Regions from separate parts of the Homo sapiens genome. Here region 1 is linked to region 2. Evidence: fine-mapped expression QTL. Tissue or cell type: gastroesophageal junction. Region 2 holds a variant in brackets; the other region holds the start of a gene. All regions are shown on one strand. Distances are from middle to middle.

Region 1 (2,685 bases), 930 kb after region 2:
GTCAGACCATAAATTAACTGTCAGTAAGAAATGCTAACTCAAAGTTCTCCAACTTTTGACTTTTACAAACCTATAAACCATTCGTTAAATTAGATCACAGCTGTCAACTTTTTATTTTGCCAAGTAAAGCATTATGATACAATCACTACCCACTATCATTACTATCTCATAAAAGAAAGAACATTTTAAACATTTTCCATTCAAATATTTATTGAGCACCTACATTTTGCTAATACTGTCCTAGGCACTGGAGATACAGCTGAGAAAAAGAGAAATTATATCTGTCCTCAAAAAGCTTGATACAAGAGCACACTTGATAAAAATAAAAGGAAAAAAATAATCTCCAAAGAAAGAACAGTTCTCTAAATTAAGCTTACATTAAGACAGAAAAATGTGAAGTTCGTTTTTTTTTTTAACAATTTCTCCGTAGACTTCATTCAAGTTCATTTTTGGTCTGCTTTCAGGAATCTTTAGTTAACCAGCTATGTTTAATCTACATATTGCAGGGCCAATTGTACATTAAGGGGCGCTCAAGTAGTTTTGTACAGAAATATTACTCCACAACATTCCACCTCCAACCTCAAAGGAGATGTCTGCTGATGAGTTTAACTATAATTCTCTCAACTCTCCCCTCTTCGCAAGTATTCTCCGTGAATGCATCTCATTCCTAATGTGTGAAATCTCTCCGAGAGACAAGTATTAAAGTTTCAGGCCAAATCGGAGAGCACCGTAATCCTAAACCAAGTAAGTGTCACAACTGGGGAACATAATTCCCGACAGAAAAGAGGCCAAAGAGAAAGGATTTAGAAACATCGTGATTCGGAAACCACGAAGCCAACGTAAACTGCTCAGACTCCGGCACTACTGTCAAACACTACTGGCAAACCAAGACCCCTCCCAAACGCCATCTGAGGTAAACCTGAGAACCCTGATCCTTCTCAAGGCCCAAACCTGACAGGAAAAATAAAAAATAAAGCCATGCAAGCAGAAAAGCCAACTCGACCAAAGACACGGAGGGCCCAAGTTAAAGCAAGGAAATGAAGGGGCTGCTGCAGCCCTCCCTCAGACGCGATGCTCACACAGCTCGGGGGAGGGTGTCTGTGTGTAAGCGAGAAATTAAAGAAGCAATCTGCAGAAGGAAAAGTGGAGAACGCCTAACGGTTTTTTTGTAAAGATCCCAAGTCAAGAAGCAGCGTCAGAATCAAGTCGCCAAGCCTTACCTCAGCGCTCGGGTGTTTAAAAGTATCTAAAAATAACAGCTCCATCGCCGAGTCCACCGCCATGTTTGCCGCGGGCGGGGAACAGGGGGGAGGACTTCCGGGGCAGCGCTCCAGCCTCCGCGACAGCGACTCAGGAGAGGGAGAAACAGAGGGACTTCCGGTGACCAGAGCACTAGCGCCGCAAACCTCGGCCTATCCCAACGCATCTTGTTGCCCGGAGTTGCCGGCCCCGCCTTTTCCAGCGCGGCGGAGGGCGCCCCCTAGAACGCAGAGGGGGGGCAGAGGGAAGTGAGATGGGGACTACGGGGTCTCCAGTGGTTCAAACCCTGTCGTTCCTCCGCGTTACAGAGCTACAGCGGTCTCCGGGTGGCGAAGTGCGGAGACGGGGTTTTGGAGACGGTGGATGGAGGAGGGGGAGGGAAAGCTGCCAACTTTGGATACCAACCCCGTACACCCACCGAAGGGGATGTCCCACTTTTTCCAGCGCTGGGAGCAAAAAGATAACAGTGAGCGAGGTTGAAAAGTAAGACATTGATTTAAATAGAAGAAAAACTGTTGTTTCAACCAACGAAGAGATTCTTTGTTTTCTTATCTGTAAAATGTGAAAAATCGTACCTAACCTACAGGGTGATTGTGAGGAGTAATTGAAATAAAATTCGAGGAATTGTGTAACGTGAAGTACCATGAACAATAAAACAGGAGGCAGAATGAAAAGTAAGCCTCTCTGTCGGGTGTTGATGAGCTTTGGAGCAACGAGATAAACTCAGCGGGTTTGGTAGTCTAAATGGCACAAACCCTTAGCAGAGCAACTAGGAAATAGCTTGTAAAATTACACGTGCCTACCACTCTTCTAGGAAAATTCTCGCCCACGTATCTACAAATACAAGAATATTCATAGCAAACTTTATAAGTTGCAAAAGAGCAGGAAACATAAGTGCCATTGACAGAAGTAATAAGTAAATAGTGGCGTATTTATATAATAGTATATAGCAGGTACGAAGAATGAACCAGTGCTATGTTTACTAGCATGAAAAACCCAAAAAACAGGGTTGGTGGGCGCTTTGGCTCACGCCTGTAATCCAGCACTTAGGGAGGATGAAGCGGGAGGATCGCTTGAGCCCAGGAGTTGGAGAACTGCCTGGGCAATATAGCGAGACCCCGTTATTCACAAAAAGAAAAAAAAAAGACACAAACCAAAACAAAACAAGTTTAACTCCTCTCATCGCAAGCCGGGTGCGGTGGCGTGTTCCTGTGGTCCCAACTTCTCGGGAAGCTGAGACAGGAGAATCTCTTAAGCCCAGGAGTTGGAGGCCAGTGGGGACACCCATCTCTTAGAAAAGGAAATAAAAAATATATAGTGTAAAATAACATCTATATATTTAAAAACGTGCAAAAGAATATAAAATTTTAGGAGTGTACATATGTCATGAAATTATAAAGTCATGTATTGGAGTAACTAAAATTT
Region 2 (2,685 bases):
GCCGCCAGGAGAAAACTGCCTGGTTGTTATCATCCTTCCAGATACAAGGGAGAAAACTGAGCCCCATCCAGCAGGCTTTCACACTCAAGTGTAGCCTGATTCACACAGACATACTACTAGTTCAATGTTATTGAGTGCCCTCAGAACACAGAAAGGCTACCTACCCATGGTCACAAAGCTATGGGAAAATAAGCAGAATGGTTTAACAATTAAATCAGTGCTATGTCAATGTTAGTCTTCCTTGGGGAAAAATTATTTCTCAGACAATCAACATATAATTTTAGATGGCTGGGCTACCCGCCGACCGATAATAGAGATTTTCACAAAATTCAAGTCATAAAACTCCAGGAAATGAAATAAAAAGGCAAGGTAAATCACCATCAGTTTATTTATGTTATTCATACCATTCTAATTGTAAAACTCGATCTAAAGATGATAATACCAGCAGGGTTACAAAGGTTCCATCTCAGTGCTCCCCACTGTGTCCAAAGACACATGTGCTCATACACGCATTCCCTCCGCAAACAATGAGAAGCTCAGCTAGTCTCCCTAGAAGACAACAAACACAGAGTGTTTCTTCCCCTCCCCACCCTGGATTAATAACAGCCTAGACATTAGCCTCAGGATTTTACACAAGCCTAGGAGAGCATCGCCCAATTGCTCTCTCCCAGAAAATACAAACAAGACTCATAGAATGTAATTCTGGAAAAGACTCATTGGTTTCCAAATGCCAGTCCTAGGACCCATGACCATATAAAATAACTCTTTTTATTAGCCCAAGAAAAAGCAAGAAAAATAAGGACAATGTGATGAGTTTTCCAGAAGGTAAACTTTGAATTCAAAGGACTGTCTTTTTTCTGATAATATATGCTTCTCATATTTTATGTATTTGAATGTCATTTTATGTATAAAATGAAGGTAATACACTAAATTGTTTATGTCCTTACTAAATACAATTTGTCAATTCTCAAACATTGCTCTTGCGTGTGACTAGTTGGTGAGATTTAAAAGATTGGGAACCACTTGTTTTGTCCAGCTCTCTTTTTTTGTTTCTTCATTTTTTTAAAAATTTTGGGCCCAGCCAGGGCAACACAGTGAGACTCCACCTCTACAAATAAATAAATAAATAAATTAGCTGGCATGGTGGTGCACGTCTGCAGTGCTGAGGTGGAAGGATCACTTGAGCCCAGAAGGTCGAGGCTGCAGTGACCCATGATCACACCACTGCACTCCAGCCCAGGTCAAAGATGGAGACCCTTTCTCAAAAAAAGGGGGGGCGGGGCCTGAGTAAAGAGAGTTGAGCTAGTAACACTCCTGGGCCCACAGCACTCTGTTGTCATAAGTGAACACAGTGCTCCCTCTCCTATATTATATTTCCCCTTCATCTCTGATCCACACTCATAAGTAACCACTTCATAGTGATGAATGGAAAAGATATGCAACAGTCTATGTACATTGAAAGCATATTTACATGCAAAAAGCATAATGTATTTTTATGTATTCATACAAATCTAAGCACCTATGTCAGCATTCTCATTTTAAGAATGAAGCAACTGAGGATCAGGGAAGTCAACTGACTTGCCCATGGCCACAAGAAGGTCAGGTCAAAGCTGAGCT[A/G]AAACCTAAGCCATCTTGTACTCTCTCAATAAAATCTTTGGCTATTTCTCTAAATAAAAACACAAACATACACTCTTTTTAAAAAGATGGAAAAAAATGAAATTAATCACAAACATTCATGAAAATATCCGTAAAATCCCAAAGCAAAAACTATGAGTCTAGCTATTTCTAAAAGGTTCTGACAGTCACTTGAAAGGTCTTATGGACTTCATCAATCTAGGATATTGTGAGTTAGAAGACAATTTATTAGGCATATTTTTAAGAACCCTCCCCATGTTATTTACATAAATCCCTTATAGGTAGGTCTTTAGAGGTGTTTTTGAAAAAAAAATGTGAGGGGCATATTAATCACAACAATCTAGAAACTTGTCTAGGATGATGTTCTGAGCTCACCTTGGCACTTCCAAGCCTGGCATCTCCTTTCCAGATCCCAAAAAAAAGCAATTTTCTCAAGTCCCTGGTGGGGGGATCGGCATGCAAAATTGCCTCCTTCATTTACATCAGTGTCTGTCAGAATCTATTGAGACTCTGCCATGGGTATATCCTGCAGAAGCTATAGGCTGAGGCATTGAATAATCTTTTTGCACACTCATATTAGAATTAATGAAGTGACTGATTCTATTATATGCTCCTAAAACATTTTCTTTGTCACTTCCAAGTATACATTGTAGGGTAATTTTATTGAACTGTTCAAAAAATTACTATAAAATAGCATCCAGTTTCCACAAGCCCTTCATCCACAAGAAACAATGCATTCATTGATGGGCTCCCTGCCTCTGTAGGCTCTGGCAAAGGAAATCACTGGAGACTTATTTATTTTATAGTGAACAGTGAGGAGGGGACACCACTTTTAATTTGGAGATTCCAAATTTAAATGGAATGCCCTCCAAAAACTAGTAACCAATTCTATTACCTAACAGAGTCCCACAATATATCACCGTAAGTCTGTAAAGCCAACAGCATCCTTAAACAGCCACATTATCTCAAGAGCTTTAGTACTCTTTGGTTGAGAAGTGTCCCAAGAATTAGGTTCTCCAGTCACCAACCTGAGACTAACACTGTACAGTT

Evidence for each region. PIP is the estimated chance that this variant, and not a neighbour inherited with it, causes the effect.
Region 1: VIRMA starts here. The variant in region 2 is fine-mapped to the expression of VIRMA in gastroesophageal junction (GTEx, PIP 0.98).

What each region holds. Positions count from the first base shown.
Region 1 is chr8:94,552,165-94,554,849 of GRCh38, forward strand. It overlaps VIRMA (vir like m6A methyltransferase associated), which reads right to left and starts at 1,305. Exons shown (of 24, transcript NM_015496.5): 1 at 1,221-1,305. The coding sequence starts at 1,283. VIRMA-DT (VIRMA divergent transcript) reads left to right here and starts at 1,549. Exons shown (of 2, transcript NR_183271.1): 1 at 1,549-1,743. RefSeq lists an enhancer at 999-1,618.
Region 2 is chr8:93,619,550-93,622,234 of GRCh38, forward strand. The region is part of intron 5 of CIBAR1-DT (CIBAR1 divergent transcript); the gene reads right to left. Among named protein-coding and RNA genes, the nearest start is that of CIBAR1-DT, 80 kb to the right of the region's middle. The variant A/G (reference allele first, on the strand shown) is at 1,618.